Linked DNA regions of Homo sapiens: region 2 is linked to region 1. Evidence: fine-mapped expression QTL. A gene starts in region 1. The other region holds a variant in brackets. All regions are shown on one strand. Distances are from middle to middle.

The links. PIP is the estimated chance that this variant, and not a neighbour inherited with it, causes the effect.
Region 2: its variant is fine-mapped to the expression of SNX19 in whole blood (TOPMed, PIP above 0.99). The same link has a PIP of 0.9 or more in cerebellum.

The regions. Positions count from the first base shown.
Region 1 is chr11:130,912,040-130,921,425 of GRCh38, reverse strand. SNX19 (sorting nexin 19) reads left to right here and starts at 4,947. Exons shown (of 11, transcript NM_014758.3): 1 at 4,947-7,160. The coding sequence starts at 5,487. RefSeq lists a silencer at 4,755-5,034 and an enhancer at 5,155-5,204.
Region 2 is chr11:130,889,357-130,898,742 of GRCh38, reverse strand. All of the region lies in intron 8 of SNX19 (sorting nexin 19), which reads left to right. Among named protein-coding and RNA genes, the nearest start is that of SNX19, 22 kb to the left of the region's middle. The variant G/C (reference allele first, on the strand shown) is at 4,220.

The DNA of each region.
Region 1 (9,386 bases):
GAACTAATACAGTAAATTGTTACCAGTAGAGTGGGGCTGCAGAAAAGATACCTGAAAATGTGGAAGCAGCTTTGGGACTGGGTAACTGGCAGAGGCTGGAACAGTTTGGAGGGCTCAGAAGAAGGCAGGGAAATGTGGAAAAGTTTGGAACTCCCTAGAGACTTGTAGAAAGGCTTTGGCCAAAATGCTGACAATGATATGGACAATGAAATCCAGACTGAGGTGGTCTCAGATGGAGATGAGGAACTTATTGGGAACTGGAGCAAAGGTGACTCTTGTTAAGTTTTAGTAAAGAGACTGGTGACATTTTGTCCCCGTTCTAGAGATTTTGGAACTTTGAACTTGAGAGAGATGATTTAGGATATCCGGCAGAAAAAAATTTCTAAGTAGCAAAGCGTTCAAGAAGTGATTTGGGTGCTGTTAAAAGCATTCAGTTTTATAAGGGAAGCATAGCATAAAAGTTTGGAAGATGTGCAGCCTGACAATGCAATAGAAAAGAAAATCCCATTTTCTGAGGAGAAATTCAAGCCCGCTGCAGAAATTTGCATAAGAAACGAGCAGCTGAATGTTAATCCCCAAGACAATGTGGAAAATGTCTCCAGGGCATGTCAGAGATCTTTCTTTGCGGCAGCCCATCCCATCACAGGCCTAGAGGTCTAGAAGGAAAATAGAGTTTCATAGGCCGGGTCCAGGGTCCTGGTGCTGTGTGTAGTCTAGGGACTTGGTGCCCTGCATCCCAGCTGCTCCAGCCATGGCTGAAAGGGCCCAACGTAGAGTTTAGGCTGTGGCTTCAGAGGGTGCAAGCCTCAAGGCTTGGCAGCTTCCACATGATGTTGAGCCTGTGGGTGCACAAAAGTCAAGAACTATGGTTTGGAAAACTCCATCTAGATTTCAAAGGATGTATGGAAATGCCTAGATGCCCGGGCAGAAGTTTGCTTCAGCAGCTTGGCCCTCATGAAGAACCTCTGCTGGTCAGTGAGGAAGGGAAATGTGGGGTGAAAGCCCCCACACAGAGTCCCTACTTGGGCACCACCTAGTGGATCTGTGAGAGGAGGGCCACTGTCCTCCAGACTGCAGAATGATAGATTGACCAACAGCTTGCACCATTCACCTTGAAAAGCCAGACACTCAATGCCAGCTCGTGAAAGTAGCTGGGAGAGAGGCTCTACCCTGCAAAGCCACAGGAGTGGAGCTGCCCAAGACCATGGGAACCCACTTTTTGAATCAATTTTGGAGTGTTAAGATTTGACTGCCCCACTGGATTTCGGACTTTCATGGGGCCTGCAGCCCCTTTGTTTTGGCCATTTATCCCATTTGAAATGGCTGTATTTACCCAATACCTGTACCCCCATAGTATCTAGGAAGTAACTAACTTGCTTTCGATTTTGGAAGCTCATGGGCAGAAGGGACTTGCCTTGTCTTGGATGAGACTTTGGACTGTGGAATTCTGAGATAATGCTGAAATGAGTTAAGACTTTGAGGGACTGTTGGGAAGGAATGATTGGTTTTGAAATGTGAGGATATGAAATTTGGGAGGGGCCAGGGGTGGAATGATATGGTTTGGTTCTGTGTCTCCACCCAAATCTCATCGTGAATTGTAACTCCCACAATTCCAATGTGTCATGGGAGGAACCCGGTAGGGGATAATTCAATCATGGGGGCAAGTCTTTCCCATTGTTCTCATGATAGTGAAGAAGTCTCATGAGACTGATGGTTTTATAAAGAAGAGTTCTCCCACACAAGTTCATTTCTCTTTTTGCCTGCTGCCATTCACGGAAGATGTGACTTGCTCCTCCTTGCCTTCTGCCATAATTGTGAGTCTTCTCCAGCCATGTGGAACTGCAAGTCCAATTAAGCCTCTTTCTTTTGTAAATTGCCCAGGCTCCGGTGTGTCTTTATCAGCAGCATGAAAATGGACTAATACAATACTAAACACCTCCAGAGAAAATAACTCAACCATATGTATTGGTGCCACTACAAAAAGGTCCCTCAGCCCCACCTTCTCTCTTTTTTTTTTTTTTTAGACGGAGTCTCGCACTGTTGCCCGGGCTACTGGAGTGCAATGGCACAATCTCGGATCACTGCAATCTCCACCTCCTGGATTCACGCGATTCTCCTGCCTCAGCCCTCCGAGTAGCTGGGATTACAGGAGCACACCATCACACCTGGCTAATTTTTTTGTATTTTTAGTAAAGACGGGGTTTCACTATGTTAGCCATACTGGTCTTGAACTCCTGATCTCGTGATCTGCCTGCCTCAGCTTCCCAAAGTGCTAGGATTACAGGCATGAGCCACTGCGCCCAGCCCCCACTTCATCTTTTTACCTGACCTTCGATAGCTCCCTTTCTATATCCCACAGCAATAATTCCATACCATCGCCTCTTCTCACTCACTTGCCCCATCACTGAGCTTCTCTTTAGGAAGCCTCCTGGTCTTCTATTTTGAGAGAAAATTCAAGTGGGGTGCGGGCTGGCTCTGGCAGGGCCTATGTCACGGGCCCCCCTGCTCTCATGGTCTCTGCCTGTTTCTTATGAGCAGGCCTCTGCCTGAAAGACCTTCCTTCTGTTTGCCCCTTGCTCTCGCTACCCAACATTTCCTAAAATACACTCAATTCTTTTTCATTTCCCAACTTAAGGGAAAACTGTCTATGAGCCACCCCCCTCCACAGCTGACCACCCGCTTTGTGTTTCGATTTTATTGTATGCACTTCTATTACAACACATCAGAACACATCACATTACACACGTGATCATGTTTCATTACGTTTATATATTTATGTGTCTCTCCTTTAACTAGACTGAGAGTCCCTTGAGGAGAATTATTGTATCTTATTTGTCTTGTTTTCTCCAACACTCTAGCACTATGCCTTTAATGTTTTGAGAAATAGGGAAAAGGAAAGAAGGAAGGACGTCTCCAGATGGTGAGTGGTGTGGCCAAGTCTCCCCACCCCACATACACACACCAGGGCACATCAGTCCTGACTCTCACCTCCTCCCAGTGATTAATCTGTTTGGAGACCAGGGTCTGCCCAGACCCCCAGGCAGGAGCTCACACCCGTCCAAATGACAAGTGCACGGGCATGTCCATCAAACCCGCTTCAGAATCAGGAAGGCACTCTTGGCTACCTTGATGCTCCAGACCATCTGGTCAGGTGGCATAGCGCCCACTTGCAAGGTCACTTCCTTACTGCCCTGAACACTCCAGATTATGCTGCCAAGTAAACTTTCTCTTTGAACTGCCACAGGAAGTCTTCAGCACCGTCGGTAGTCCCTTCATCATTCACATTTCTGTTTTAGCTCCCAACTAGGTGGCAGGGACTTTTCTCCAGAGCATTGTTGCCATTTTCTAAGTGCTCCTGAGGACATTAGAATGGTCTGGGAAGGTAGAGGGGCAGAGCCCACTTCTCGGGTTCCTTTTCTGCGGGAAGGCAGGCAGCAGTGAAAAGGTATGGACCGTGAAACCGTGGATTCACATTCTGCCATCTCACGGGAGTGCCCAGTCTGCTTAGTGGACACTGATCCTAAATCAAACCATTTGCTTTAGAAGTGATGAATCGTAAACTACGGGTCACATCTAAATGATGGCTTCTTTCGTATTCAAAGGAAGTCTCTGCCCCAACAGCAGCAATGGACGAGACAGGAAGCTGCAACGCACTTCTTGTTGGCAGAGTTTTGGGTTGGGATTTGTTTGAAGATTCCTTTAAACATCTAGGGAGTAGTCCATGATGATGAAAGACTGCTCACAGCACAGAGAAGGTGGACGAAGGGCAACCATGAGCAGCTCTGTGCAAACGATGCGAATCCTATGCCTAAATGGAAAGGAGACCCACCCTGCGGGCACAGCTCCTAGGGCCCAAGGTGGACATGGAAGCTGGCTTCACGCAAAACTGACACTAACACTTTTGACACCTGGTCAGTGCTTCCGGTATTTTGTCTTCCTATAGGTTCCTGTGTAGACAAGTGAAGTCTAATTTGCTAAAACCAAAAACAATCCAACATAGAGCATATTCCAAAGCAAATATATTACAGGATTATCTGAAAGGACACCTCTATCTCTGCTTTCCTTTTCTATGTTTTTGGGGAGGATAAGGCGAGAAGAGATAGAGGGAAATAGAAACCCTCATCCTTGAAGACTCAGCAGAAAGGCACCTTTTCTGTGAGCTTCTCCTTAACCATTGCAACCCACAGTGATCTCTCCTTCCCCTGAATTCCTATAAGATTTTGTATTTTACTATATCGCACGCTGACTGGCATTACTAGATAGCCAATCGCGTTCAAAGCGCTGGCATCCCCAGTTAGCAGGAGGTCCTGGAGGACAAGGTCTGCTTCTATTCGTCCACGCTGCCTCTCACATTGAAGACAGCAGATGCTCAAAATATTTGATTGTTTGTGTAATGCCACCAGCAAATAACCCTCAATCACAAATTTGATTTTGTGATACAGTATATGAAATGTACAACATAAATCTATCTCTGTATCGTTTCATGCCTTATATTCTGCAATTCCTGACAACAAATGAGGGTCTTTGTGCTGGGGACGCGGGGTACCGGCTCTAGGGGAAACCGGATAAATGTTAAGACACATCAGGCCAATGAAACTTCGCCTCCATGAAATTAAAATAAACCGGATTATTGACAGCGTGCCTAAGCAGTAAAGGACAGGCTTCATTTAATAACCAGAACTAGGACGCGTTTTAAAGCGCCTGGAAGTCTGGGTCTTAGCGGTGATTGCTGCGGCGGCTGTTTCGTGGCACTTCGGAAATCTGCGCCAGCTCTTGGCGAGCACGCGCCCCGTGCGCGCTCAGGCTCACGCTCAGGCTCAGAGACTACCTCGCGCAGGGCCGTCAGGGCGGCTCCTCGCCAGCAGAGGGCGCCGGGCAGCGCCGCTCCTCGGGGCGCGCGCGGACGCTCTCCCAGCATGCCTCGCTCCCGTCGACGTCGACCCGGAAGCTGTCGCCGGCGGCCGGCCGGCGGTCAGCCTTCACACAGGCCCGGCTGCGGAGCGCAGTCGCCCAGGTTTACGGCGGCAGAGGGCCGAGGCTCCCGGAGAGGACCGCGATGAGTCCACTTCAGGTCGGGGCTGAGTGTGGGCGCGCGGTTCCCGGCGGCGTGTGACCCAGTCTTCGCCGGCCGCTGCCCGCTGCGTGTGTAAGTGTCCGTGGGCCCCAGGGCCTTGCAGCGCCCGCCCCGAGGCCCCGAAGAGGCCTTCCGCCTGGGGCAGTGTGAAGGCCACAGAGTTTTCCTCCAAAGCCACACCTCAGCTGGAAGGGGCGAGTTGGAGGGCTCTGTTAGTGGTAGCCATGGGGAGACGCGGAGCTGCAGCTGTCGCTTTGCAGTGCCTGTAGGACTTTGAGGGCCTGGAGCCCCGGTTCCCTGAACAGCACCCAGATCGCCCCATATCTGAGACACAGTTCATGCCCCCCTTCCCTAACTCTGAAGTAAAATCTTGAGGGCTGTCATCTGGGGAAGCCACCTTGTCCGTTCAGCCATGAAGACAGAAACAGTGCCACCGTTCCAGGAAACTCCAGCTGGATCGAGCTGTCACCTCAATAACCTGTTGAGTAGCCGGAAGCTGATGGCTGTGGGGGTCTTGCTTGGCTGGCTCCTGGTCATACACCTTCTGGTCAACGTGTGGCTGCTGTGCCTTCTGTCGGCATTGCTAGTGGTGCTGGGAGGATGGCTGGGCTCCAGCCTCGCTGGAGTGGCTTCAGGTCGACTGCATCTGGAACGCTTCATCCCGTTGGCCACCTGTCCTCCATGCCCTGAGGCAGAAAGGCAGCTGGAACGGGAGATCAACCGCACCATCCAGATGATTATTCGAGATTTTGTGTTATCTTGGTACCGTTCCGTGAGCCAGGAGCCAGCCTTTGAGGAAGAAATGGAGGCAGCCATGAAAGGGTTGGTCCAGGAGCTTCGGAGAAGGATGAGCGTGATGGACAGTCATGCTGTTGCCCAGAGTGTTCTGACTCTCTGCGGTTGTCACCTGCAGAGCTACATTCAGGCAAAGGAGGCCACTGCAGGGAAGAATGGTCCAGTTGAGCCTTCCCACCTCTGGGAGGCTTACTGCCGGGCGACTGCCCCACATCCTGCTGTGCACAGCCCCAGTGCTGAAGTCACCTATACGCGTGGCGTTGTGAATTTGTTGCTTCAAGGGCTGGTGCCCAAGCCCCACTTGGAGACTCGTACCGGACGCCATGTAGTGGTCGAACTCATCACATGCAATGTAATCTTACCACTGATCAGCAGGCTGTCAGATCCTGACTGGATCCACCTTGTACTCGTGGGTATCTTTTCCAAGGCCAGAGATCCAGCACCCTGCCCAGCCAGTGCCCCCGAACAGCCCTCAGTGCCGACATCTCTGCCACTGATTGCTGAGGTAGAGCAGCTTCCAGAAGGGAGAGCTTCTCCAGTAGCAGCCCCAGTATTCCTAAGTTACAGTGAGCCAGAGGGTTCTGCAGGCCCCTCTCCAGAGGTTGAAGAAGGCCACGAAGCTGTAGAGGGAGATTTGGGTGGGATGTGTGAAGAAAGAAAAGTAGGAAACAACTCATCTCATTTCCTACAGCCAAATGTTCGAGGTCCCCTGTTCTTATGTGAAGACTCAGAGCTGGAGTCTCCGCTGTCTGAACTGGGCAAAGAAACCATCATGCTCATGACTCCAGGCAGCTTTCTCTCTGACAGGATTCAGGATGCCCTGTGTGCCCTAGAGAGTTCCCAGGCTCTGGAACCCAAAGATGGTGAGGCATCTGAAGGAGCAGAGGCTGAGGAGGGTCCAGGGACAGAAACAGAGACAGGCCTGCCGGTCTCCACACTGAATTCCTGCCCAGAGATCCATATTGACACAGCAGACAAGGAGATAGAACAAGGAGATGTTACCGCCTCTGTTACAGCTTTGCTGGAGGGGCCAGAAAAGACCTGCCCCTCACGGCCGTCATGCTTAGAGAAGGATCTCACCAATGATGTGAGCTCCCTTGATCCTACTCTGCCACCAGTTCTGCTTTCCTCCTCTCCACCTGGTCCTCTCAGCTCAGCCACCTTCAGCTTTGAGCCCCTAAGCAGTCCCGATGGTCCAGTTATCATCCAGAACCTTCGTATCACTGGCACCATTACAGCCCGAGAGCACAGTGGCACTGGATTCCACCCATACACACTCTATACTGTGAAGGTAACAGGATTAAAGCTGTGGGTGCTCACCCGGGCTAGGAGTGGGTTTGGAAAGCAGTCATGAAGCAAATGTTCTTGGGGGAGAGATGCTGTTAGTTTGAAGTGGTTCTTTCAATAGGCATCTATCTCTGTGAATGGTCTGAAGCTAATATGTAAGGCAGAGTAGCGTTTATCCTGTACTCACACAAGCAATCCTGGAACCTCAGGGCTGCTAGAATGCTGAGGGTTATATTTTCAGTGGTTCCCAAACTTGGCTGCACCTCAAAATCACTTGAGCTGCCTTTCAGATATACAGATTCTGACAGACTCTGTTGGATTCTGTATGAGAATTTCTAAGGAGGGGGTCCCTGGATTCTGTATTTTATTTATTTTCAAATAGAACTCTCCAGATAACATAGAGTCAGCCTGTCCTAAGGCCATCTTGGGGAATTGCCTCTCTAATCCAACCAACCCTCTTCATGTTATCTCTTGTCAAGTTGTTCCCAAGTCTGCTTACACACCTCCAAGAGTCAAAAACTTGCTATCTTCTGAGATAGACATAGGTAAATAACCTACCTTCCTAAAACAAAGTACAAAATGTACCAGTATTTTGAAAAAGAAATCAGCAGGGAAGAAGTTGAGAAAGAAAATTCTTGGACAAGATCCTACCCATTGGATTTTACTTGCCTTCCACACTTGAATTTCTCTCATTTGAGTCCACAAGCTACCACCAGGGACAGCCTGCTTGCTACACTCCTCCGAACTCCCAATCCAACTAAGAGGGAAAAGACCTTCCTTGATCTGCTCAACACAGCTGCATCATGACATAGCATTTTAGAAAGTAACATTATGACATTTTCAAGTAAGACGGAATGGAAGTAATTAGAAATGCATATGGGTGAACACACAGACACACACTCATTATAGGCAAATTGTAGAAGTACAGATGTCTGGTCATAAAATAACTGAGACTAGCCTCAAAGGACTGGTATAACTTTGTTAACATTTTCCTGCCTTTTTGTTCTAATTCTGGATGCCCCTATGCCATGCACCTTTCTCACATTTAAGTGTTGGCTTCTGGTTATTTCATCTTTTTTTAATGACTATTCCAATACTGACATAAAACAGCAGGTTTTTTCCCTCCTCATTAGCAGAAAAATTAAGTTGATGGATAGAATGTTTAAGTTCCCAGTCTTTCTCCCATTATTTGTTCTTTTTTGTTGTTGGCTAGATTTTGACATCTGCTACTGCTTCAATTAAGCATTAGAAAAGAGTAAAGTAAAAAATGAGAACGAAATAATATAGCCAATTATGAGTAGTTTGAAATTGGGTTTAGATTTTTATATGGACATATAACTGATTTTAAATTGTATATCAATATTATTATACTTTCTGATAGTAAATAGTTTTCGGTTTATGTGATGGAAGTAACCATAACGGTGTTGAAAATTGGCCCTCGAGGAGCAGCATATTCCACAGAAAGCCTCATAGTTCCAAATGCTCCAGGCTTGAGAGCCCCACCCTGAATGCCACCTGTTGCTCTTACTTGGTCTTTCCTTCTCAGTGCTGTTCTGAGGGACTGCTTTGCTCACATCAGCTCATAATGAATACCCTGTCTCCAGAAAATTGTAAAGCACCAGCCACAACTCCCACCAACGAGGAGGTAGTTTTTTCCACCTCTTGCCCACAGTATACCTCAACCGAAAAATAATAGCCCATTCCTAATGAGAAGGCGCACATATATACTTCTCCCACAGCGTTTCATTGTGTCTTAACTACCCTGTCAAGAAGTGTGCCCCCATGCTGAGTTGCAGATTCCATGCCATCCGTGGTATTCACTCTTTGGGGAACATGAGATATAAGTCGTCTTTTCCACATACCAGCCCTCTAAGCTTAGGAAGACAGTGGACTTTGACCCCTTATCACATCTCCAATTTTCATGTGACTTCTGTGATACAGATGATACGTACTTAGGAAAAATTCAGTTTAGCTCTAAGAATAACAATTAGGAAAATTAATCTGCGTGAAACAAAACAAATACCCTTTAATTTATTCCAGATAAACAAATGATTTATATCTGCTGTTTGGATTACTTCTTCTTCCCTTAACTAATATAAATAATCACGGGAGAGTATAATGGAAAAATGGTTTGCCCCTTATGATGTTTAGCCCTGTAATTTAAAGGTGATAGAGGCAGTATCATTTTTATGGATGTTATGCCTTCTATTCAAATATTCATTTGAAAAAC
Region 2 (9,386 bases), 23 kb after region 1:
AGGTTTTAATTTTAAAAAGTGGTGTATGCATTGCTGCATGCTTCAGCTTTATTTGCTTTGGTAAGCCAATATGCTGGAAACTTGACATCTCCAGAGCTGCAGCACCTCTCCACTGTACCCCCTGCATCTCCCACAAGAGGCATGATATGAGGTCCCGTTGCCTCCCATCCCCATGACTGCTGCCTAGGAGGCTACATGTTTGTCCTCCCTGAAACCACGGGTAGCTGAGCCATATGCTTTTGCAGGGTACTTGGGTTCTCTTCCTTTAAGTTCCGTGCTTAAAAGAGCAGGATAGTTGGTGTTGGTGCCACACGTGGTACTGCCACTTCTCTAGTTATTTAGAACTCACTGCAGTTTGACCATCAGGGATGCTGTAGTCACCAGATTTGAGTGCATCTCCTCCTTAAAATGTCCTCATGTTCCAACCTCCAGTATTATTATCCCCAAGCAGGCAAGTTTATTCCTCTGCTTCCAACTTTGTATACCCATCTTGCAACTTTAAAAGACCTGTGTACATTACTGCCTTGGACGCCATAGACTTCTGTCAAATTATAAGCACACTCTCTATCCTGCAAAGGAAAAAAAAAAAACAGAGTAAGTTCGACCTCATAACCCCTCCTTCTAAGCCAAAGTTGGAAGAGCTCTGATCTGAGCCAGGCTTATAAATCTCCGTTGATTGTTGATGATGTGGAGAGAAGTGGGAGGGGAGCTGAAGAGAAGTTAGATGCCCAAAAAAGGCATTGTTAAGTCAAAGGGAAGTCTTGCATGCATGTGCGCCTAACCTCATGTGTCAGCTTCTGTGCTGGGAACATCCAATTATGTAACAAGAAGCACTCCTTATTTGGAATGAGAGACAAAGGGAGGGGAAGGGGAGAGCGGGTAGCACTCTGAGCCAAGGAGCAAATCCGGCTTGTGCAAACTCTGCTCATGCCCGAAAACAGAAGAAACTTGAAAATATCTCTGCAAACATCAGAATCAGATTTAGCAAACTGGGCAAGTACTCAGAGTTAGACTGGGTTGGAGGGAAAGAGGAGAGATACACTGTGCTGCATTGATGGTAGGGGGTTTGGGGCAGGAAGATCCAGCCAAGGTAAGGGGTAGGATTGGTGTGGAGTCCTGATGGAAAGTGAAGGAATGAGAAGCTGGACCGGCGCCCTGCCTGGACACCCAGAGCAATGCCACGATAAAAATAGGAACCATGCCAGCAGCAGAATGCGTGAATGCCACGTCCGCGGCGCTGCCCTCCCCATGGCCCCAACGATGGCATCAGACCTGTGTCAAAAGGGCAGCAGACACATTCCTGGCATCTGCGTCAGGATTTCTCAGTTAAAAAGGGAGTGTGTGTGTGTGTGTCTGTGTGTGTGTGTGTAAGATAGAGACAGAGTGTGTGTGTGTGAGTGTTGGGGGCATGTGGGAATGGAATGGCTTGGCAGAAAGCCAGGGGGAAAGGTTCTGGCAGAGGGGAGCGTGAAGTGTGTAAAGTTAGGAAGTATCCAGAGAGGAAGAAGAAAAGAAAGGGTGTGCAGGTTTAAGGAGTCCAACAAGCAGGGCACCCAGGAGAAACTTGATGGCAAGCTCTAGACCTTACACCAGACCTTGGAATCACTTTCTTAGAGAAGATGTCTCTCTCTAAACCATCTCCTAGGAAAGGTCAGGAGAGCTGCGGCAGAGTCTGGGAGCACTGGAGAGTGCTGTGCTGCAAGGCGCAACGTCCACCTCCCCTAAGGACAGTTGGGAAAGGTTGACCATGAACCCTCTTGCTTCCACTGTTCTCTTAGAACGCTCCAGAATCAAGGCGCTTTCTGTGGAACTCTACTTCAAGGGCCTCTTTCTTGGTGGGCATGTCTAACTAGCAGGTGGATAACAGTTCTTTGTGACATTGGTTATTTCTTAAGAGAACCTCCAGGTCTGCCACCAAAAGTGCACGAGTAATTGCAATGGGAAAGGAACTGACGCTTATTACAATATTAATACCAGGAAAGCAGCTATGTACTGTTTATATTAATGTTCAATTCTATGAGATAGACATGTAGTTCTACATTTCATAAGTGAAGAAAATTACATTCAGATAAAATAACGTTCCCAAAATCATAAAAGTCGTAACAACCACACCTTAAGATTCCACTTAAGTCATCCTGGCCTCAGAGCTCATGTGTTTCCCACTGCTCTGCCATGCTTCCCCTCCATGCAAGCTTTCCCACAAAGCAGTGGCCACTAGAACTGGGTTCACCTGAAAGTTCCCTTGCCGTATTCCCATCTAGCCTCTCTTGCTTTCCATCCAGCTGGTCTCAGGGACACACGCATCTGATGGTAGCATATAAATTATTTTTGTCTGCATATTCTGATTTTATTTTTAAAGCACTTCTGAGCCAGAGATTGTCTCTTAGCTATCTCTATTTATATGCTATTCACAATCAGGAAAAGATTATCAACGTTAAGACTCAGAGTTTCTCAGGAAGCATAGATTACAGTTTTTTCCTTTGCTGTGTAACTTTTTCTTCCAGTTCAGCTCTGATGCCTGGCTATGTCTTATACCCCATCTCTTCCTATGCACAGCTTTTCTAGAAATACGCATACTTTTGCAAGACCCCCACATACAAAATTAACTCAAGCTCAGTCTTCAGAATTCTCGCTTATTTTCTGGCTCTCCAGTCATTGGCTTGGGCTGTTTTTAGAGGTGCTGAAATTAATTTTTCTCATTGATGGCTTTGCTCAGATTGTACTGTGGCTCCCTGGGAAGGAGTACTGCTTGTCCCAGGCCTCTTCCATTAGGCCATGCCAAAGGGAAGCTCTTGACTTCTATAGACTGGGCCAGGATGGGCCCTAGCAGTTTCCCCTGTCATATGAGTGGTCTGCCTGTCATATTTCTTGGGTATCACTTATTCTACACCCATCTTAGGATGAAGACATCATGGCTTTCCTGTCACATAGTGACAGTCTCTACTGGAATATATCTTTGAGATTGTAGCAGGTGGATGGCAGCTGACAGCCGTGTGCCTGAGCATTGCATTTGCATTTCTGTGTGTGTGTGCTCTTGAAGTCTCATATACTCAAATAGAGGTACAAAATTGCTCATTGTAAAAGTTAACAAAAAACAGAATATCATGAGGTATTTAAACCTCAGAGCCTTTTTTTCCAAGTCAGGTTCTTGGCATCTCTTGCCCATCTGTGACTGCAAACAGGAACCTAAGATTTTGACATTTTGATGACAGCTTTAGAATGTATGTCAGCATCCTGAGGGCAGGGACTGCGTCTTATTTACCATTATATCTTCAACACCCAGCCCCATGCATAGAAGGCACCTAGTAAATTTGTGTCAAATAAATGAACACAGAAGATCACACGTCATTCTACTGGAGGCAGTCCCTCTGCTTATCACTATTAAGAATCTTAGGGTTTCCTCAACAGTGCTGGGGGACCAGAAGCAAAATGGAAACTGAGTCTTTCATTCCCTCCACACAGGGCATACCCAGATCTTCAGTTAATTGGGGAATTCTGATTCCCAGAGCCATGGTACGGCCTAAGCAAAGAGGTTTGGGGGCCCTTCAGGCCATCTCCCATTCTAATGGCTCTCTCCTTTCCAAAGAGTGCAGCGCCCCTCCACAACCTGGGCCTCCCAGTATGAAGCCCCACCGAGCCTGCCCTCTCTGGAAGCATCTCCTGCTGTTGTACTTTCTCCACCTCTTTCCTTCCACATGGAAAGCAAGAACTTGGACTTTGAAGTCAGATCTGAAATCAGATCTTGCTTTGAGGCTATGTGACTTAGAACAAACCACTTAACTTCCTTTGTCTGTTACTGTCGAAATAGAAATCATAGCCTAGTGCATGAAGTTCTTTGGGGGGATAAGAGATAATTTAGAGGTAAATGTTAGAGAGGCTTTATAGAGGAAGGTATAACAGCTAGATCTTGTGAGATAGGTGTCATTTAGACTGGTTTAGGCTAAATAATATTCTAGACACTAAGACATTTTTAAAACAGGAGGAGGGGCATTCTACTTTCAAATAAAAAGCAACCTGGAATATTTTTAGCCAGCTTCTTTCTGAATGTGTGTTGCTTTTATTGTTTCAAATAGGTGACAAAAAGCCTACCAAACTGCTGCTGCATGGCGTGGGCACAGGAATTCTCTCTATGGGCACCAGGTGGCGCTGCAGGTTAAACAATACCATTCACTGTCCTTTGAGGAAGACCTGTTTGTTTTGCAGTTATAGGTCCCCTGCC[G/C]TGATGTTGATACAGTATATTGAAGCCATTCCCTGGCTTGCTCTACGGTTTAGAGGCCACTTATCTGCCTACTCCTTAGTGCCAGTGACTTTTAGATAAGCCCTGTTTCTTTGATCTTTCACCCTTCTTCCTTCTGCTCTAATGCGTCTTCAGCATATGCTTGCTTCTCTGAGTGGTGTGGATGACCAGAAGTTGCCCCTTTGAGTGGATCCCACCCGTTAAAAATTCAGTGCTGGAGCTGATTCATTCAGAACAGAGTGAGCAGAACAGAGTCTGTGGTGATGAGACCAGCTAGACATCTGAATTGCAAGAATTTTGTTAATATTCTGTATAAACTACTTGGACCTATATTCAGGGTCTCCTGTGATCCTAAAATCTTATACATTATGTATTCACTAAGATGGAGATTGTCAGTGCTGAATAGCCCCGATGTTAGGAATCTTATCAACCTGTTACATAATCAAGGACATTCCCTATTGCTTTCGGCCATGGATGGAGACCGTTTGGCTCTCCCCCATTAACTTGGTTTTGGAGAAGCAACCATATGTTATTGCTTACTTTTGATCTTTACCTCTGTCCTTGCAGGCTTCTCCAAGTGCCCTTTGGAGAAGTAGAGCTATTTGGTACTGGAGCAGGGAGGGAGTTGGGTAAATTGGTGGGAAATATACTTTAGCTCTAATATAATGCTGGCCCCGAAAGATTTCTCGGAGAGGATTCAGCCTTCCTGGGAGGGAGGCTGGTGTGCAAATGCAGCATCAAGGTAAGTTCCTCAACACCTGCCTCCTCTCTCCCCCAGGTTTCCTTTTTGTTGTTTTTCCAGTTTTATTTATTACTCCTCTGTGTTTTCTACCCATAGTCAGTGCTCCCAAAGTTCCTATTCTGTGGAGATTCTGGAGTTGCCACTTCGGTGTCCCTACGTCCTTCATAACGGGATAGATGGCCTTCTACTTGGAAAGGTTTTACATTTCAGCCTGTAGACAGGGAACTGGAAATACTTTTGGGTAGCTCTTCTACACCAAGGTGATGGTGTTAATGATAGTCACTTTTCCTTCTCCTCTACACCCCTCTCAGTGTTTTTTCTCTTTGTTTATCTTGGGCATCTGCTTCTCATATATGTATTCTTTATTCTCCTCAAGGCTGGTCTTTTCCAGCCTCCTGTAGCCATTTTCACAGCATAATTTGAAGTCCTCCCATGTCTGCTGATTTAAATAAATCCCTAATAATTTTCTTCCAAATCATGGCTGAGCACACTCTAAATCTGTTATCCGTAATATTTGCAGAAATTTGGAGGTCAGCCCCTTCTGCGAGCACATAATTACTTATCACTTCTGCCTCCTGCAACCCTTCCCTTCCCATCCTCCTTTCCTGTGGTGGGAGTTCTATGTGCAGAGCAGAACAGGGAGATCTCCCTGTGAGGTAAAGCCCCCATGAACAATAGGGACTCTGGTCGTCAAGACAACCACTAAATTACTGCCTTCTTCCCTCTTTTGTGTCTTGCCTTTCTTCCTGGTGCTTCAGCACTAAGGGTTTTGCTCCCTCTCCCTGCCCTTTCCCCTCCACGGACTCAATTTTCTTCTGAATGGGTGGCCATTTTAATTACCTTCCCCCTTCCCCACCCCACCTCTCTGCCCTTGCCCTTGCTGCTGAGAAAGGCAGGCTCAGGATAACTACCTGGGGACTGAGAATGAGCCAGGCTTGCTGTTCACACGGGGACAAGGAAAGAAGAGACAGAGACATTTGGATCCTATAGTCTCTGCAGTGAAAGTTTTATTGGTTGGTACATGGAGGTCTGGTTTTAGGAAGGATTCGGAAATAGAGTTTTCATATTATCCAAAACCCCCTGAGGCCTCGTCCCAATTTTCTTAACTGCTCAGTACCAAATGCTTTACTGGTTTCAGTATTTACTTCCCTGAGCCTGCCAGGAAGAGTAAGCTTTACAAGTGAGAAAACTGAGGCATGAAATGCAAAGCTTACTCCAGATCCTGCCATCATTAGTTCGCTGAACCTGGTTGAATTTTTACAGAAGGTCTGAAGTAGTCTTTTTCTCTTTTACATGTGCAAACACACAAGCACTTTTAGAAATACTTTTTATTTTTCTTATTTCATCTTGATGATAACTTTGTGAAAAAGGCAAGGCAAGAATTTGCCCATTTTATAATGAAGGAAGCCAGAGCTCAGAGAGTTTGTTCAACTTTTATGTGGTTAAGCCAGGTTCAAACCTGTCTGTCGCTTTTCAGTGTCATTTTTAAAGTCTGTCAGTCCTGATTTTCTCAGAACTGGATTATAGTATGTCGGTAGCAACATAGTATGGGGCCAAAAAAAGGTTGACTTGAAAGACTTCAGAGGCACACTAGATTTGTGCATAGAAAACTTTCAGATTGGCCGGGCGCAGTGGCTCATGCCTGTAATCCCAGCACTTTGGGAGGCCAAGGTGGGTGGATCATTTGAGGTCAGGAGTTTCAGACCAGCCTGATCAACATGGTGAAACCCCGTCTTTACTGAAAATACAAAAAAAATTTGCCGGGCATCGTGGCGCATGCCCTTAGTCCCAGGTACTCGGGAGGCTGAGGCAAGAGAATCACTTGAACCCAGGAGGTGGAGGTTTCAGTGAGCCGAGATTGCACCACTGCACTCCAGCCTGGGCGACAGAATGAGACTGTCTCAAAAAAAAAAAAAAGAAAAAACTTTCAGAATGAAATCTTAAACATGTCACAATACTCAAATATAGAAATTGTTAGAGCTTTCCCTTTACAATCAGTCTTATTTATCCTAAAAATACACAGACCCCAAGTGTCTTTTTCTCTTTCTACATTTGTTAGAAAGGTAACCTGACCTTTGCTTTTGGTCTTTCCTCCCCCATTCTGCTACCTTCCTCTCTTCTTTTCTTCTTACTAGTTTCAAATAATGGGTTGGAATCAATTCAATGCTGCTCCATCCGTCAGAGGCACTTCCCAAAATACAAGTGTGACTCATAGTCCTCATAACCCCCCTTTGCTTTTTGTTTGACTTTCAATCTCTTCTATCCTCTGGGCCTATTTCCCAGGAAAATTGACCAAACATAAGCTACTGGCAGCTGTCTCTCTCCTCCAGGATTTATAGTGTGAGATAAGGAGCATGGCTGACCCACTCCCTTGCCTTCCAGCTCTCTTCCCTTCCAGAGGAATGCATAGCCAGGTGTGAATGCCCATTTCATGGATTATTCTTAGTTCTAGACCACCTGACTTATTACCTAGCATACCCGTTACAACATCAGCTCTATCGCTGGTGTATTAGCCCACAGTTTCATTTTATTATTAGCCTAAACAAAAGATTATTAGGAAAGTAAATCTGTCAGACGTGTATATAAACATATATGGAATGCCAAATATAAAGGATTTTTATATTGTCCATGATTTTTTAAAATCTATAATTGTCTTCCTCTGTAAGCATGAATAATTAAGAGCTCAATGTTTTTGCTGTTGTAAGTATTGGGATGTATGCTTTCTGCAGAACCTATTTTGAACTGTGTGCCATGCTTTAAGACCAGTGTTTGTCCCATATACAGCATGAATTCACTTAGTAACCAATATTTATTGATTGCTTTCTCTGTGGTAGGCACTTCGTTAAGTGATCAAAATACAAAAAAAAAAAAAAGACCCAAATCCCTACCATAGGAAGTGTGATATCCAATTGGAGGTGCAAACTTATAAATAGGAGTTGTAGTATAAAATCAGTGCTTTGAAAAGAACTCTATATGTGATTCAGAGAAGGGATTTATCAATTATGAGAGGTGCAGGGAAGGCTTATAGTAGATGACATCAGAGATGAGATTTAAAGAATGTGGGGCGTTGCCAGCGGACAGTGAGAGAGAGAGAGAACATTCAAGGCAGAGCAGTAAAACAATATAGTGTATTTGTGGTACTCAAAGAAGTTAGTATGATTGATTAGGAATATATGATATGCAAGAATAATGGCTGATGATAACAGTGAAGAGTTTAAAGGGAGTCTGCTCATTCAGACTCCTGTGAGTCATTCCAAGAACAAAACATTTGTCACTCATTTGATAGGAAACAATTTTACAAAACATAAACAGATGATGACATGAGCAAATTTGCAATTGAGAAAAATCATTTAAATAGTGCTGTGGAGGATTAATTAATTGAAGGGGCCAAAGTTAGAAACAGGAAGACAAATTAGGGAGGAGTTTCATTGATAGAAAAGGTGATGAGGCATTCAGCTGAGATCATTGCTATAGAGATGGTAAAGGGGTAATAGATTCATGAGATATTGAGGAGGTAGGATCACCTATATTTAGTGACTATTTAAATGATTATGTGGTGTTGGATTAGGGTTGAGAAAAAGACAAATCAAGAATGACTCACACAGTTTTCCACCTTGCAGATTGAGAAGCATAACTAAAAAGATGGGGTAATATCTTTCTGAACAGCATATTGGGGTTGTGGTTAAAATCCTGTTGCTTACTAAAGTAATAGATTAGTATCTACTCTGATTTATATAAAAATCAATGATGCACCCAGAGAAGCCTGTACTGTATCTCTAATAATTTTGAGATTCTTTTTAGTAGAAAACTTAAGGCCCAGATTATATTTTCAACTTTTTTTCTATCTGTAAGTTTCTTTAGAAGAAAAATGAAAACAGAGAATGAATAGCTAACCTTGTAGCTGGTACCAAGGCAAGGTTTTTAAATTTTCTGTGCCATGACGTATGATTATTCACATGGTGAACTTCTGACCACAGACAGAATACAACTCAAAAATAGTAGAAAGAATGTGTTTGTCAGCAGACCATCAACCCAGTGAAGAGTAAGACATTGACAAAAAAATTCAGATAAAGTTAAAACTGGATATTGAGAAAAACAGCTGACACAGAAAGGAAAGCAGAGATAGATGAGAGTACTGGAATTCACAGGAGCGTAACAGAATGAGATAAAAACTGTTTTACATGCTGTAAGAACAGATTAACTTAAAATTCACGCCTGAAGGTATCACTCAAAGTTTTGCAACAGGATCGATTCATTCAGTAAATATTTGATTGTTTATTTGTGAATGACACTATTAAATGCTAAAGGAGATGTCAAAATGAATTACATAAGATTTCTGCCTTCAAAACCTTAAGAGTCTTTTTCTGGGGGGTCGGGGGGCATTTACAAGAAGCTCAACCAATGCTT